Linked DNA regions of Homo sapiens. The protein of the gene in region 1 purifies or fractionates together with the protein of each later gene. This does not show direct contact. Each region holds a gene or a part of one and is shown in the gene's direction. Other genes may lie near its edges.

Evidence for each region. Proteins that work in one complex are often made in the same cells at the same time.
Region 2: the proteins of TMPO (region 1) and CCT4 purify together in Homo sapiens (affinity purification with mass spectrometry, with the first as the bait; one large-scale study listed by BioGRID). This does not show direct contact.
Region 3: the proteins of TMPO (region 1) and CANX purify together in Homo sapiens (affinity purification with mass spectrometry; 3 studies listed by BioGRID and IntAct, with this or other methods). This does not show direct contact.
Region 4: the proteins of TMPO (region 1) and YWHAE purify together in Homo sapiens (affinity purification with mass spectrometry; 3 studies listed by BioGRID). This does not show direct contact.

What each region holds. Positions count from the first base shown.
Region 1 is NC_000012.12:98,542,117-98,547,522, forward strand, and holds part of TMPO (thymopoietin), read left to right. Parts: intron 1-2,113; coding exon 2,114-2,233; intron 2,234-2,325; coding exon 2,326-2,421; intron 2,422-2,834; coding exon 2,835-2,945; intron 2,946-4,242; coding exon 4,243-4,331; intron 4,332-5,406. UniProt on the Homo sapiens protein: May help direct the assembly of the nuclear lamina and thereby help maintain the structural organization of the nuclear envelope. Possible receptor for attachment of lamin filaments to the inner nuclear membrane.
Region 2 is NC_000002.12:61,875,157-61,879,608, reverse strand, and holds part of CCT4 (T-complex protein 1 subunit delta), read left to right. Parts: intron 1-559; exon of another isoform or gene 560-597; coding exon 598-740; intron 741-2,094; coding exon 2,095-2,216; intron 2,217-2,556; coding exon 2,557-2,689; intron 2,690-3,374; coding exon 3,375-3,514; intron 3,515-4,452. UniProt on the Homo sapiens protein: Component of the chaperonin-containing T-complex (TRiC), a molecular chaperone complex that assists the folding of actin, tubulin and other proteins upon ATP hydrolysis.
Region 3 is NC_000005.10:179,701,015-179,705,466, forward strand, and holds part of CANX (calnexin isoform d precursor), read left to right. Parts: intron 1-4,452. UniProt on the Homo sapiens protein: Calcium-binding protein that interacts with newly synthesized monoglucosylated glycoproteins in the endoplasmic reticulum. It may act in assisting protein assembly and/or in the retention within the ER of unassembled protein subunits.
Region 4 is NC_000017.11:1,345,999-1,349,174, reverse strand, and holds part of YWHAE (14-3-3 protein epsilon), read left to right. Parts: intron 1-3,176. UniProt on the Homo sapiens protein: Adapter protein implicated in the regulation of a large spectrum of both general and specialized signaling pathways. Binds to a large number of partners, usually by recognition of a phosphoserine or phosphothreonine motif.

The sequences.
Region 1 (5,406 bases):
TCACTGCATATTTTTTGCCAGTTTATCTTGGGGAAGCGTACCAGTAAAATTGCTAGGTAATTTCACCATTACATTTCTCTGCATATGAGTTGAAGCATTTTGCATTCCCACCAGCAGTGTTTGAAAGTACTGTTCTCAAATGGAGGAATATGAGGCTTTTTTGTTTTGTTTTGTTTTTTAATAAAGTTAGTACGAGTAACCATATTGGTCATGTTTTACTTAAATTGATAGGCCTTCAAGATGGCTTTTAGTTATCTCAGGAGCTTTAGAAATTATCTATTCCCAGACCTGGAGAGATTCTGATTTAATTGGTTATGGTAGTTGGGGGCATTTGCTTTTTTTTTTTTTTTTAAAGCTCTCCTTGATGGTACTGTGCCACAAGGATTGAGAATCTCAGATTATAAAACTACCTTTCCGTCTATTCAAATAGTTGGTAATTTGACTATTAAAAACCACTTACTCTGGCCAGGTGCAGTGGCTCACACCTGTAATCCCCGCACTTTGGGAGGCCCAGGTGGGTGGATCACCTGAGGTCAGGAGACCAGCCTGGCCAACATGGCAAAACCCTGTCTCTACTGAAAATACAAAAAAATCAGCCAAGTGTGCTGGTGCGTGCCTGTAATCCCAGCTACTCAGGAGGGTGAGGCAGGAGAATCACTTGAACCTCGCAGGTGGAGGTTGCGGTGAGTGGAGATTGCACCACTGTACTCCAGCCTGGGCAACAGAGCGAGATTCTGTCTCAAAAAAATAAATAAAATAAAAATTAAAAAGCAGTTACTCTGTGTATGTCTGTAATTTGTTTACAAGTTTCTCTTTTGACAATAATTTTGCATTCAGCAAATACTTCCTAATTGATAGGATGAGGAACCCAGAGATTCAGATTGTGACTTAAAACTCTTATAATATCAATTCCAAATATAGATAAATACAAAACCATGATTTATGAGACTATGTCTGTAACTTGTGGGGTTTTGGTAGTATTACATCCAGCCATTTAGGCATATTTATTGGATGACCACTCCTGTCACAGGATTAAAGTTTAAAAAAAAAATCTGTCTTTAATAGACATTGACTTGGACCTAAAACCATCAGTAATCTAGGTTAAATATTGGCGTGAAAGCAAAAGTGACAACAGAAGGACACTCTACTATAATACTGATCATTGATGGATGTTCTGTAGTTAAAAGAATTTAAAAGAATCATCTGGTAATAGCGACTTCAAAACTGAAAACCTTAAACTACTTGGAATGCGGAATTTCGGGCCCTACAGCTACAGAATCAGAATCTGCATTTAACAGAAGCTTCAAGTGATTGATAGGCACATTACAATTTAAGAAGAACTGATCTAATGGGTTTTAAACCAGTATGTAAGAAATGCTGGATTCTTTAAAAATGATCAGTGGAACATAGAAATTAATCTGAGACTGAGAATTAATCTGAGGCAGCTGTTTTCTGTCTTTCTGTAGTGACATGGATAGCATTGAGATTTGAAAGTGACGTTAGGCTTGCATATTCATTAAAGAGTGACCACAGGGTTTTTGTGGCTACCTAATTTTGTATCTGTTTCCAAGAAAAATTTGACACCTGAGAATTTTTTAGTTCAAATAAGCTATATGTGGGATTATAATTTAAACTGATTCTACTAAAATGATTATAACCATATGAAAATAATAATGTTTATGCTAACAATTACAAAAGTTTGTATTTTTGTTTTAAAAGGAAACTGACTTATAATAGATGACTTTTTTCTAAGTCATGATCAGTCTGCTTTTTGTTTAGACAGAGATGTAGCTCCAATACTAGAGCCAAATAGCACACAGTGAGTCAAAAAGGGAACTGGTGATAGTTGATGTGCTTTTTTTCCCATAATGTTTATAATTTGTGAGCTACTATAGGTGGATTCTTTAGTGTATTTTAGCACTTTTTAAGTGTTTCCTGATGCCTAAATATCAGTTCAATTAATACATTTAGGAATATTTTGAGGACATAGCCTTGTTTGTAAATGCTGGCATTTGGAGACTTCTATTTCATGGCTTCTCAGTGTGCCAGTATGGCCGTTATTAAAGTATTTGATGTTAGAATATGACTTTTTAATGTGTTGATGCTTGAATAGAGCTATTCTCAAGCTGGAATAACTGAGACTGAATGGACAAGTGGATCTTCAAAAGGCGGACCTCTGCAGGCATTAACTAGGGAATCTACAAGAGGGTCAAGAAGAACTCCAAGGAAAAGGGTGATGCAAGGCTTATTCCTTGGGTTTTCAGATTTGTAGGGTTTTAGTATTATTTTATATTTATTGTTTTTGTTTTGTTTTCAAACTAACAGGTGGAAACTTCAGAACATTTTCGTATAGATGGTCCAGTAATTTCAGAGAGTACTCCCATAGCTGAAACTATAATGGCTTCAAGCAACGAATCCTTAGTAAATATGTTTCATAAACTATACAAGTGGTATTCTTTGTAAATTACCCTTTAATTGGAAATGGGGAGGTGGTGAATTTTGGCAAATCTCAAATTTACATGTTTTTTTTTTTTAACAATTTTAAACTGATTTTCCCCATATAGTTCTGAATTTTAGAATTTTCCTATAATATCCAATTTATGTAAAGAAATCTAATTCATTGTACAAGAAAGTATAAGGATATTTTTTGTTAAAATATTTGAAGAATGAGGCTTCATATGTGAGGCACTAAGTTGTGTTTGTAGGCTGTGTTGCTTAAATCTTTACTAAGGGAAAATTTCTAATATTACAGAGATAAAATATCTTTCTTTTCTTTTTAAGTGTCTGTGTTATGTTTGGATAATTCTGAGTCTGAATAATTTGAATCTTGGCAGGTTGTCAATAGGGTGACTGGAAATTTCAAGCATGCATCTCCTATTCTGCCAATCACTGAATTCTCAGACATACCCAGAAGAGCACCAAAGAAACCATTGACAAGAGCTGAAGTAAATGAATACAATTTAGATCGATGCTATCATTGATCTTTCAAAGAGGAAATATAAATATTTGTTTGTTTTTTTTTTTTTTTTTTGGAGTGGGAGGGAGCAGAGCTTTCTTTATTGGGTGGTGTGTGTAAATATGCATAAATTATTTTAAGGACACTTTTATTAGTGAAAACAGAAATTAACTAATATAGTTTGACATGCTAATACTATCCTCTTGCCACTGTATCCCTCTTAAGTTCCAGTTTTCAAGGGAGTGGTCATTTCTGTTCTGCTTATAATATGTTCTGTTTGTCATGGATGCAAGTTTGAAAGTGCTGCTGGGCTATGAGGGAGGCTACACTTTCTTTTGTTGACGGGTCAAATAAGAGACTTTAACATAACTTCATGTGGTGCTGGAATGGGTTAACTCCTGTGTAATTAAGCTTGAAAGTACTAACTGCATGGTGCATTTTAATTTGAATGAATCTTTACAAAAGGAGCCGAAACATTTATTATTTTGTTCTGGACATAAAGGTAAACAGTAAAACAAGCTAAACATTATATTTTTTTTAATTTGGGCATATTGCATTGACTATAATTTTAAAACATATAGTAAAGTTTGCTAAAGGTTCATGTTAAGTATCTTCTGTATTTTATCTTTTACTACAGAATTCTTAATAAATGAAGAAACAGTATACTTTTTTTTTTTTGAAACGGAGTCTTGCTCTGTTGCCCAGGCTGGAGTGCAGTGGCACGGTCTCAGCTCACTGCAACCTCCGCCTCCTGGGTTCAAGCGATTCTCCTGCCTCAGCCTCCTGAGTAGCTGGGATTACGGGTGCCCGCCACCACGCCCAGCTAATTTTTGTATTTTTAGTAGAGATGGGATTTCACTATGTTGGTCAGGCTGGTCTCGAACTCCTGACCTCAGGTGATCCACCCGCCTCAGCCTCCCAAAGTGCTGGGATTACAGGCGTGAGCCACCGTACCCGGCCCAACAATATACTCTTAATAGTAAAAAACAAAATCAATGAGGGAATTAGCATTGCCATGTTAGATTACTGAATTTTTTCCCCCCAGTTATTTAAATGTGTGGCAGTTTTTCACTCCAATAACCACATATATAAGGTATCTTCAAGAAATTTGAAGAGAGCCTTGGAAGCATGTGGATACCTAAATAATAATTTAGAAATGGCAGCTGTAAAATCTATGATAGATTTAAAGGCATTTTGTTCTCTAAAACTTACTATTTATGTTTTAATTATTGCATGTTTACACTAAATTTTAACTTGTGGTTGTTTGTTTGTCTGTTTCTTATTAGGTGGGAGAAAAAACAGAGGAAAGAAGAGTAGAAAGGGATATTCTTAAGGAAATGTTCCCCTATGAAGCATCTACACCAACAGGAATTAGGTATTCAGATACATTTAAACAAGTACTAGTGTATTCTAGTAGGGAATCTTTATTTTTAATTCTTCATCACAAAGTTACTGTACTTCTGCTCAGAATTAAGCTGTTTTTTTGGAGCCAGGTACAATGGTACATGCCTGTAGTCCCAGCTACTCAAGAGACTAAGGCAGGTGGATTGCTTAAGCCCAGGAGTTCGAGACCAGTCTGGGCAACATAATGAGACTCTGTCTACCCACCGACTTTTAAATAAATAAGTGAACGAACTGTTCTTTTGGGAGCAGTTTAATTCCCCTAAGCCCACCAGTAAATATTCTTGAAAGTTGAATGAGTTTCAAAATTGCGATTGGTAAATGGAGGATTTTAAATAAATCACTTACTTACTACTTAAATTCATATGTTAAAATCTAAACGAAAATCTAGTGAGAAATAGTTTTTCCCCCCTAAGTTTCTCTTTTCTAATTGAAAAGGCTGTGTTTATGTATCTTAATTTTTAACTGAAAGAAACACAGCCAAAACTGTTTTGTTTTTCCTCTTTACTCCTAAACATGAGCTTTGAAGAGCCTTTAAGAAGGCAGGTTTAGTGACTATTTATCAGTGTTCTGAATATTCTTTTCTAATAAAGGATGCATCGAACTTTTTTTTTTTTTTTGAGACGGAGTTTTGCTCTGTTGCCCAGGCTGGAGTACAGTGGCGTGATCTCGGCTCACTACAACCTCCACCTCCTGGGTTCAAGCGATTCTCCTGCCTCAGCCTCCTGAGTAGCTGGGATTACAGGCACCCACCATCATGCCCGGCTAATTTTTGTATTTTTGTAGAGACAGAGTTTCACCATGTTGGCCAGGCTAGTCTTGAACTCCTGACCTCAGGTGATCTGCCCGCCTTGGCCTCCCAAAGTGCTGGGATTGCAGGCGCGAGCCACCATGCCCAGCCCATCTAACTTTTAAAATAGAAAATATGTAGAAGTTTTAAATAGGTTGACTGACCTCACTGCTTTATATGTATCAATTTTCTACTGTTACCTCAGGGAATGTGCTTGGAATTAGGAGTGGCAATGACATTTTATGTTATTTCTCTAAAT
Region 2 (4,452 bases), on another chromosome or scaffold:
AATGTAGATTTGTGATATTTTGAGAAGTATCGGCCAGGTGCGGTGACTCATACTTGTAATCCCAGCACTTTGGGAGGCTGAGGCTGGCAGAACAATTGAGCCCAAGGAGTTGAGACCAGACTGGGCAACATGGCAAAACCCTGTCTCCACCAAAAAAAAAAAAAAAAAATACAAAAAAAATTAGCCGGGTGTGGTGGCGTGTGTCTGTAGTCCCAGCTACTCAGGAGGCTGAGGTGGGAGGATCACTTGAGCCTGGGAGGTTGAGGCTGTAGTGAGCTGAGATCAGGGCGCTGCACTCTAGCCTGGGTGACAGAGTAAGACCCTGTCTCAGAAAAAAAAAAAAAAAAAAAAAGTATAAAATTTGGTTTTAGTCAAGACCATTAATAAGTGTGTAATCTGTTTTAAGTTGGATGGAAGTAAATTATTAGCCATAGTTAGCAGGTTATTCAAGCCACTATATTACAACTGAAGCATAAGTTTGTAATTAAGAATAGTTAAATTTGTGCTTGCTTTGACATTGAGTAGAAAATTTTTAAGCCATGTCAAATGTGTAGTTTACCTGTTACAATTAAATAACTAGACTTTCACAAATTACAGGGATTCATCCAACCATCATTTCTGAGTCATTCCAGAAGGCCCTGGAAAAGGGCATTGAAATCTTGACTGACATGTCTCGACCTGTGGAACTGAGTGACAGAGAAACTTTGTTAAATAGTGCAACCACTTCACTGAACTCAAAGGTGAGACAAACACTAACGGATACTTGTCAAATTAGTTAAAAGTGTGTTACTCTATGATTCTTGATGCTATACGGTACATAAATACTAAATCTCAAGAGTGGCTAGGTAACTGTTATAATCTGTATAATTGAATTGGTTTAAGATTAAGAGAGGAAATGAGCCATAAGGCTAACAAAGGAGTTAGGATATTTAATATATACTATATCCATTTCCACTTTTCTGTTTAATGCATTGTAACAGTGTTTTGATAAAGCTAGATATTTTAATTTGCCTATAAGAAACCTTTTCCTCCACCAAATCAGAAAGACTGCCATAGATTACTGGCAGTATAGCTAATTTTTATTGAATATTTAATATGGTGGGCATTGTGATAAGTTTTTTACATTTATTGTCCTCTTCAAGGCCCTCAGATAGTCATATCCCCATTTTATAGATGAAAAGAGTAGATCTAGAGGAGTAACTTATCCAAGGACCGCTAACAGAAACAGCTGAGATTTGAACCCAGGACAGGCTGCCCATCGTGGTCCATCCCTTAACTAATACTTATGCTGCTTTTCTTATTTACCAAACTTAAAGCGGTGTTGTGCTTTTAAATTTCTTTGGAACTCATGTCACTTGTTTTCTGTAATATCCTGTGTTTATCCCTTCCTTCCCCTAATCCTTTTTCCTTTTAAAAATCAGTATTAAGTCCATACATTCATTTTGTTTGAATGTTAGGTAGTGTTAGGGACACTAAGTGATACTGTTGGATGTCCTTAGAACTAATACAGATAGTATAGCGTAATGGTTACAAGCACTAGGCATTGAGTCTAGACTGCTTGTGTTTGTTCAGTACTGACTTCACCACTTAACTACGCTGTTTGGCCAAATGACTTAACCTCTTGGCTTCAGTTTCTCCATCTGAAGATTGAATGAGTTAATATGTAAAGTTCTAAGACCACTGCCTGGCATATGTTAAGTGATTGATAAATGTTAGCAATTTTTATCAACCCCTCATCAGGAATGTACATACATAACATTGATGCCTCATCACACATTCATTTTAGATAGAAAATACTCACGTAAAATTAAATTTATGCTTTTTGGATTTCCTGTAAAACTTTGATATTCTACAGTCCCGGCTATTATATTAATAAAAGAAAAAAGCAAGCATACATGTTTTTATTTTGTGCCCCTGGTGACAACCTGAATGGAAAAGACACTTTATGGACTGTCTTCTCATGAGTGTTTCCCTCTTCATACCCACACCCCACTGCAAAAATTATAAGAGTCTTTCTTAAGTATCTTTGTCATTGAAAAATTAGGACTTTTTTCTACTGTGAAGGTAACTTTTTTTTTTTTTTAATAATTCTAGGTGGTTTCTCAGTATTCAAGTCTGCTTTCTCCAATGAGTGTAAATGCAGTGATGAAAGTGATTGACCCAGCCACAGCCACCAGTGTAGATCTTAGAGATATTAAAATAGTTAAGAAGCTTGGGTAAGCATCTCTAATTACAACTTGAATAAAAATTTGAAAATGAGCATCAGATTGCCAAAAATAAATAAAAACACCTAGATGAAAGTCACAAAGCTCTCTTTTCTCTTTTTGGTTTTGTTTTCGTGAGAATTTGTATTAGTATGGGCATCTGGAGATTTTGTTTATGTTACCTTATGATAGTAAGGCAGCAGTGGATCAAAGAGATCCAGGAGTGGGGCAATAATAAATGTGAGGCTGAATCATATTTTATTGGACTGATGACTTTTAATCTGTTCATCTATTAAACGTACAGATGTCCACTCCCTCTTAACTACCCCTCTTTGTTTTCTTTTATCCTTAGTGGGACAATTGATGACTGTGAGTTGGTGGAAGGGCTGGTTCTCACCCAAAAAGTGTCAAATTCTGGCATAACCAGAGTTGAAAAGGCCAAGATTGGGCTTATTCAGTTTTGCTTATCTGCTCCCAAAACAGACGTAAGTAGAATCCAAATGAAATTGGTTCTCTGTGTTTAACTTTTTAATAACTCAGGCATTTCTTTATTAAAAATAGAAAATACTACTAGTGATTTAAAGCAGATCTCAAAAGACTTACTAGAATTGAGACAAAAATAGTAATTGTTGGTGCCACAAGTGACAAGTCTGTATCCTCAGTTGGGATATTGAAATTGAGAGCTAGCCATTTGCAACGATGCCTGTAGTCCCAGCTCCTTGGGAAATTGAAGCAGAAAAATTGCTTGAACCTAGGAGTTTGAGGTTGCAGGGTGCTATTCCATGACCTGTGAATAGTCCCTGCACTCCACTCCAGCCTGGGCAACATAGTGGGACCCCATCTTTTCACTGTTGCTGTTAATTTACAAATTCACACAGATTAGAGAGGGACCCTATCTTTTGAAAACAACTAGGGTAACCATTTTATATTTTTTGGTTATAAAAAATTTACTTGCAAAATGTAAGATACCAGTGTACTTAGTTGAAAATAAAAGACTCAAGTTTGGGATGTGTATCTTAATCCAGACTCTTTTCTATGCATGTCTATATAATTTATTACTTGATATAGTTTTGGTTGAATTTATACAACACATAGTATTTTCGCTTAAAATTCTACTTTTAAACTTAAAATATCTTACAATGCAAATTATGATGTTCTTTTTCTGAACAGATGGATAATCAAATAGTGGTTTCTGACTATGCCCAGATGGACCGAGTGCTGCGAGAAGAGAGAGCCTATATTTTAAATTTAGTGAAGCAAATTAAAAAAACAGGATGTAATGTCCTTCTCATACAGAAATCTATTCTAAGGTGTGGGGCTATTTATTTTGTTCATCCCTTAATGATAATTTTGGATCTCCACTAGCAGTTTATTTTTTCTGATAAAATATATGATTTAAGCACTTACTCTAAGTTCGTATTTCTTAACAGACAACTCTTAGGTGAAACGAAATGGAGAATTTTTATTTTAAAAGCACAGGTAAAATGTTAGGCCTCAATATTGTACCATCATTTGCTCAGACCAAGGGAAAAAATGGTATAAGTTCAGTTAAGATGTCTAGGAAAAGCATTTTAAACAAATATATGACTTGTAAATTCAAAACAATAAAGGTGTAATTTTCTTTTACAAAAAAAAGTAGGTTTTTTAAAATAGCCAACTAACTGCCAGAATGTTGTGTTTTGGCCTTTTAAAAAACTTATTTCTTCGATTATTGGCTTCAGGGTGGAGCCCTTAAGGAACAGGGCCAAGAAAGCATGCAGTTTTTAGAGTCTAAACCACACTTCTAATAGCAATTTTTTTTAATTTTTTTTTTTTTTTTTTTGAGACAGAGTCTCACTCTGTCATCCAGGCTGGAGTGCAGTGGTGCAATCTCGGCTCACTGCAACCTCCGCCTCCTGGGTTCAACAAGTGATTCTACTGCCTCAGCCTCCCGAGTAGCTGGGACTGCAGGCACGTGCCACCACACCTGGCTAATTTTTTGTATTTTTTGAGTAGAGATGGGGTTTTACCATGTTAGCCAGGATGGTCTCGATCTCCTGACCTCATGATCCACCCGCCTCAGCCTCCCAAAGTGCTGGGATTACAGGCATGAGCCACCGCACCCAGCCTCTAAGAGCAATTTTTATAGAAACATTTGAGTTGGGTAAACCACCAGAAATCTGCATTTTTTTTTTTAGCAGTATCATTATTTTTCCTTGCAGTTACAAGCTGGAAAAGCATTATTATGTTTTGATAAAAAGTGCGTAAT
Region 3 (4,452 bases), on another chromosome or scaffold:
ACCACGCCCGGCTAATTTTGTTTTTGTATTTTTAGTAGAGACGGGGTTTCACCGTGTTAGCCAGGATGGTCTCAATCTCCTGACCTCGTGATCCGCCCACCTCGGCCTCCCAAAATGCTGGGATTACAGGCGTGAGCCACTGCGCCCGGCCCAGTGTGGTAGCTTTTGTCCCACTTTGGTTTCCGTAACTTCAAAATAGGAATGAGAAGTCTCCTGGGTTCCTCACCTTTAGGGGGCAATTGGGAGGGGCAGATAAAATGGTGAACATGAAACTACTTTAAAAAGTGTAATGAATTGGCTGGGCACGGTGGCTCTCACGCCTGTAGTTCGAGCACTTTGGGAGGCTGAGGTGGGCGGATTACTTGAGGCCAGGAGTTGGTAACCAGCCTCGCCAAAATGGTGAAACCCTGTCTCTACTAAAAATACAGAAAATTAACCTCCAGCTACTCGGGAGGCTGAGGCAGGAGAATCACTAAACCTGGAAGGCGGAGGTTGCAGTGAGCGGAGATGGTTCCATTGCACTCCAGCCTGGGTGACAGAGTGAGACTCCATCTCAGGAAAAACAAAAAAAAAAGTGTAATGAACTGTGCAAATAGAATACGCCGTTTATAATAACTCCTAGGAAATAATAAAAGTACCTAAACAGTTAAAACCTATACAGCTTTTGGTAAAACTTTTCAGGAAAGTCCTGGTTGAATTCTTTGTTACTCCAACAGATGTACTTTTTTTTTTTTTTTTTTTTTTTTTTTGAGACGGAGTCTCCCTCTCAGGCTGGAGTACAGTGGTGTGATCTTGGCTCACTGCAACCTCCGCCTCCTGGGTTCAAGCAATTCTCCTGCCTCAGCCTCCCAAGTAGCTGGGACTACAGGTGCCCACCACCACACCCGGCCCGGTTTTTTGTATTTTAGTAGAGACGGGGTTTCACCGGGTTGTCCAGGCTGGTTGCGAACTCCTGAGCTCAGGCAGTCCGCCCACCTCGGCCTCCCAAAGTGCTGGGATTACAGGTGTGAGCCACCGCGCTCAGCCTTACTTATTTTTTTAGAGACAGGGTCTTGCTCTTCATCAGGCTGGAGTGCAGTGGCGTGGTTATTGCTCACTGCAGTCTCAAACTCCTGCTGTTATTGGTTCAAGTGATCTTCCTGCCTCAGTCTCCTGAGTAGCTGGATCCACAGGCGGATGACGCTACACTCAGCTAATTTTTTTTTTTTTCCTAATTTTTCATAGATACTTCGCTTTGTTGCCCAGGCTGGTCTCGAACTCCTGAGCTCAAGCGATCATCCTGCTTCCTCCAACTCCCAGAGTTCTGGGATTACACGCGCGAGCCACGATGCCAACCAGGAGACCAGAAATTAAGCTCAGCTTTCTTTCTCTCCCTTCTTCCCTCCCTCCCTCCCTCCTTTCCTTCCTTCCTTCTTTTTTAAAACTTTGTGGTATCTGTTTGTGAATTGCTTATTTTACTTACCATATTGTCTTCAAAGTTCATCCATGTTATAGCCGGTGATGGGATTTCCTTCCTTTTTGAGATTGAATAGTATTCCATTGTATGCCTATGCCACATATGGTTTAATCATTCATCCATTGATGGACACTTGGGTTGCTTCTGACTGTTGGCTGTTGTGAGTAGTACTGCTATGAACACGGGTCTGCAAATATCTCTGAAACTCTGCCTTCTTTTTCTGTTTGTTTGTTTGTTTGTTTAAGGCAGTCTTACTCTGTTGCCCAGGCTTGAATGCAGTGGTGCCATTACAGCTCACTTTATTTTTTATTTTTTTGAGACAGTCTCACTCTTGTTGGCCAGGCTGCAGTGCAGTGGCGTGATTTCAACTCACACTGCAAACTCCACTTCCCGGGTTCAAGCTATTCTCCTGCCTCAGCCTCCTGAGTAACTGGGATTACAGGCATCTGCCACCACACCCAGCTAATTTTGTGTTTTTAGTAGAGACAGGGTTTCTCCGTGGTGGTCAGGCTGGTCTTGAACTCCCGAACTCAGGTGATCCACCTGCCTCGGCCTCCCAAAGTGCTGTGATTACAGGTGTGAGCCACCACGCCCAGCCTGCCCAGCTAATTTTTGTATTTTTAGTAGAGACAGGGTTTTGCCATGTTGGCCAGGCTGGTCTCGAATTCCTGACCTCAGATGATCTGCCTGCCTTGGACTCCCAATGTGCTGGGATTATTGGCGTGAGCCACCGCGCCTGGTGGAGTGGTGGAGTCTTTTTTTTTTTTTTGAGGTGGAGTCTCTGTGGCCCAGGCTGGAGTGCAGTGGCGCCATCTCGGGTCACTGCATCCTCCGCCTCCCAGGTTCAAGCGATTCTCCTCCCTCAGCCTCCTGAGTAGCTGCGGCTACAGGTGTGCGCCACCACACTCGGCTAATTTTTTGTATTTTAGTAGAAACGGAGTTTCATCATGTTTCCCTGGCTGGTCTCCTGAGCTCAGGCAGTCTACCAGCCTCCCAACGTGCTAGGATTACAGGCGTGAGCCACCCCACCCTGCCCAACGACTCACTTAGCTTCAACCTGTCAGACTCAGGCTTCTCCTACCTTAGCCTTCTTAGTATCTGGGACAACAGGTGTGTGCTACCATACCTGGCTAAATTTTTCTTTTTTTGATTTTTTGTAGAGACAGGATAATTTTTTTTTTTTTTTGTATAGACAGGGTCAGGCTATGTTTATGTTGGCCAGGCTGGGAAATAAGGTCTTAATAGAGGAAGTTGAAGATTCCTGGGGGAATAGCATGTAGAGCAGCTATAGAGGGAGAGGGTGCTGATTACTAGCTAAAAGACTTAGAAATTTTTGCAAACATGGACTCATGATAGTTTTTGGGTGATGAGTCTTCTTGTAGGATAGCTTGAAAGAGGAGGAGGAAACTAGAGGCCCTGGTAATATAAGGTAACATTAAGTATCCTGATGTCAGTAATGGAGAAGAGTGAAAGACTATGATTGATTGGGTGACTGTGTGGGCAGAGGATGTGAGGAGAAAAGGACATCTTGTGTGTGTGTGCGCACACATTTTTAGTTGTGTATCTTCTACTTGTTTTCTCCCCCACCTTGTACCTGTACTTTCTCAAGCCCAAAAATGAAAATTTACCTGCTACCAACCACATCATCTTGTGCATCTGTGTAGCTCAGTTTTTATTTCTTTAGATCTGTGGTCCTCCGTGGAAAGAGAGCCACTACCCCAAGACACATCTAATATAATACACAGGGCGCTTACGTGGTTAGAAAAGAAGAGATAAGCCGGGTGCGGTGGCTCACTCCTGTAATCCCAGCACTTTGGAAGGCCGAGGCGGGCAGATCACGACGTCAAGAGATTGAGACTATCCTGGCCAACACGGTGAAACCCTGTCTCTATTAAAAATAACAAAAATTAGCTGGATGTGGTGGTGCACACCTGTCATCCCACCTACTTGGGAGGCTGAGGTAGGAGAATCACTTGAACCCAGGAGGCGGAGGTTGCAGTGAGCCAAGATAGTGCCAATGCATCCCAGCCTGGCGATAGAGCAAGACTCATCTCAGGAAAAAAAAAAAAAAGGAGCTTGTTTTGGCCAGGTGCAGTGGCTCACGCCTGTAATCCCAGCACTTTGGGAGGCTGAGGCAGGTGGATCACCTGAGGTCAGGAGTTCGAGACCAGCCTGGCCAACATGGCGAAACCCTGTCTATACTAAAAGTACAAAAATTAGCCGGGCATGGTGGTGGGTGCCTGTAATCACAGCTACTCAAGAGGCTGAGGTGGGAGAATTACTTGAACCTGGGAGGCGGCGGTTGCAGTGAGCTGAGATGGTGCCACTGCACTCCAGCCTGGGCGACAGAGGGAGAATCCATCACAAAATAAATAAATAAAATATATAAATTTTAAAAAGTAGCTTGTTCTTAGTTTAATATTCTTTTTGAGTTCTAAAACGCTAATTTGAAAACATGTCTATTGATGATATTTGAGCAACCGTATCCATATTAAGCCTTAATATGAGAGGAATTATCTTCTGTGTTAATTTTTTTTTTTGAGACGAACTCTTGCTCTGTCACGCAGGCTAGAGTGTAGTGGCGTGCTCACTGCAACCTCCACCTCCTGGGTTCAAGCAGTTCTCCTGACTCAGCCTCCCAAGTAGCTGAGACTACAGGCGCCCGCTATCGCTCCCAGCTAATTTTTGTATTTTTAGTAGAGAAGAGTTTCGCCATGTTGGCCAGGCTGGTTGTGAACTCCTGACCTAGTGAGCCACCTGCCTCGGCCTCCCAAAGTGCTGGGATTACAGGCGTGAGCCACGGCGCCCGGCCATCTCTGTTATTTCATTGTAATGTTTTAACGGGTACCCCCTGTAAATTAGTGTATGAAAGGGCTTTTGTCTGTTGTAAAGCACTTTACAAATGCAAAAGTTTGTTGGAAATTGTATTTGAATGCCCCACATCTGTGTAACCAATCCTCTCTATATGAGGATGTTGTGTATGTTTCAGTTTTATT
Region 4 (3,176 bases), on another chromosome or scaffold:
GAGACAGGGTTTCCCCGTGTTAGCCCGGATGGTCTCAATCTCCTAACCTCGTGATCCACCTGCCTCAGCCTCCCAAAGTGCTGGGATTACAGGCCCGAGTCACCGCACCTGGCCTAGTATTACATCTTTTTTTTTTTTCCTTTTTTCGTGAGACAGAGTCTTGCTTTGTCACCCAGGCTGGAGTGCAGTGGTGCTATCTTGGCTCACTGCAAACTCCGCCTCCCGGGTTCACGCCATTCTCCTGTCTCAGCCTTCCTGGTAGCTGGGACTACAGGTGCCCGCCACCATGCCCGGCTAATTTTTTTTTGTATTTTTAGTAGAGGCGGGGTTTCCCCGTGTTAACCCGGATGGTCTCAATCTCCTAACCTCGTGATCCGCCTGCCTCGGCCTCCCAAAATGCTGGGATTACAGGCGTGAGCCACTGTTCCCGGCCTACATTTTTTAATAAATTGGTTTTGAAACTGCAATGGTGCCTGCCTGTAATCTCGGCTGTTCAGCAAGGTGAGGCAGAAGGATCACTTGAGCCCAGGAGTTTGACACCAGCTTGGGCAAGATAAAACTTCATCTCACAAAATAAAATACTACTTTTGTGACTTGGGTTCCGTGGTGAATATAGGAGAATCGTCATGAAAGTGGCAGTTTACTAGGATGTGACTTTGCATTTAGTTTAAGGATTATTTAGATTTTTTTGTTTTTTAAAGAGACGGTATTTATGTCTTTTAATTTTAGAATATGTTAATGTCTGTCCCAGCATGTTGGAACATAATTTCTTTAAAGGGAGGGATCATTGCTTTTTCTCAAGTGATTTTAGTCTCTTCACCCTGTGGTAAGAGGATTGTTTCATATACGAATCCATAGGTAGGAAATACATGTTCTCCCTGCCTGTTCCCCTCTCTCCAAAATGTAGATACACTGGGCAAAGAAACATAGCCAAGGAATCCTTTTTCCCCTAATATCTGTATGTCTTTCAAGAGGATATTACTTCCTTCTCAGAGTAGAAGGGAGGAGGAGTAGACAGATTGTTGCTTAGAGTGAAGTTTACACGAAGTAAGACCAAAGTCCGGCTCCTGTATCATTGTTTTCCTTTGTCCTGCTCTGTTGGTTTATTTTTCTTGTAATGTTGCTTTCATATGATTGTTCTCCCTCCCTTTTTCCTTGCAATATAGATTCCTAAAGGAAAACCCAACTCTTCCTTTCCTAAAAACTCTACTTTGTAAGTCACGTTCATGGCACAGTGAATTCCGCTTTCAGTTTTGGTTCTTCACTAATCATGCCTGCGTATGATCGTCCTGTTGCTTACAGACTCTGCCTGTTCCACCTTCCAGGGCGCTGACCTAAGCCTTTTCCGGCCTGCTCCTCCTGCCTACTGTGGTTGGATGTGATGTATATGACAGTGACATTTTTATGCCAAAGTTACTTGGAACTTCTGGCACATCTCATGGTTGCTTACAAGCGAGTTGTGTTCTAGTGTTTGTGTTAATGATACTTTGGCAGTGATTTGCTGTTAGAGTGAATGTTCCTATCATGTTTCCTACGTTTGAATACGTTATTGTCCTTTGGAGAACAGTTGGGTGCCCATCAGTTCTTTCATCCCTAAGCAATTTTTTTTTGCCTTTGCATATTTTTTTTCTGTCTTATGAATTAAAGATCTTCATGTATTTTAAGTAGTTTTAAAATTTTATACATTTTTTTGAGACGGAGTTTTGCTCTTGTTGCCCCGCCTGGAGTGCAGTGGCGTTCAAAGCTCACTGCAGAAATAGAACTCCCCCACCTCAGCCCCCCAAGTAGCTGGGACTATAGACATGTGGCCCCATGCCCAGCGTATGTAGTTTTTTTTTTTTTTGAGACGGAGTCTCGATTGTCGCCCAGGCTGGAGTGCAGCGGCAGAATCTTGGCTCACTGAAAGCTCCGCCTCCTGGGTTCACGCCATTCTCCTGCCTCCCGAGTAGCTGGGACTACAGGCGCCTGCCACCATGCCTGGCTAATTTTTTTTTTTTTTTTTTGTATTTTTAGTAGAGACAGGGTTTCACTGTGTTAGCCAGGATGGTCTCGATCTCCTGACCTCATGATCCACCTCTCTTGGCCTCCCAAAGTGCTGGTATTACAGGCGTGAGCCACCATGCCTGGCTCCAGCATACATAGTTTTTTACTTTTAGTTTTATTTATTCTTTTTTTTTTTTTTTTGAGACGGAGTCTCACTCTGTTACCCAGGCTGGAGTGTAGTGGCATGTTCTTGGCTCGCTGCAACCTCCGTCTCCTGGGTTCAAGCAATTCTCATGCCTCAGCTTCCCAGGTAGCTGGGATTACAGGCATGTGCCACCACGCCAGGCTAATTTTTTGTATTATTTTTTCAGTAGAGATGGGGATTTACTGTGTTAGCCAGGATGGTCTTGATCTTCTGACCTCGTGATCCGCCCGCCTTTGCTTCCCAAAGTGCTGGGATTACAGGCGTGAGCCACCGTGCCCGGCGTTATGTTCATTTTTTGTAGAGACAGGGCTTCACTGTGTTGCTGAGGCTGTAAGTGGGTTTTGAAGTCACACAGCAATGTCAAGCGTTTCCGCCGCAGAAGAGATTTGAAAACTACTGAAACCTTGATGCTGTGACATTTGTCATTTTGAGATCATTTAGGCTGTTTCAAAGCTGTACTCAGTGTAAATGCTTCATGTGTGTAGGCAGCTAGTTTGGTGTTATTTGTCCATCCTAATTAAATAATTTAACAAGCATTATGAATGGATAGTCATTTGAACATTTATGATTCTTGGGTTGATTTTTCATTTATTTTGTTTCAAACTAGTTAACTGTGTAGTAATTGTAAGTGGTTTTTTTAAAAAAGTACAAGTGAATGTAACTTTTACCTGTTACATCATTTTTAAGGGAAAAGCCTGCATGCTTCTTTATTTTGGCTGACTTGTTTAATGCATACTAATAGGTAGATGACCCTCCAACCAATAGGTGGCTTTCTGTTGCATGTCATAGTGCAGTTGAAACTCCTTAGGGTAATCACCCTCTTTAAAGGCAAAAGACAAATAGCATGAGTGAAGTGGTCCAAATGCCATTCTTTAATAACCTCAGTGGTCTGATTTACTTTGAGCATGCTGTGTTTCACTCTGAAGTAAAATCTGATTATAGTTTGGTGTATCTGGCCAAGATACAAAAGCTGAAATATTTATAACAG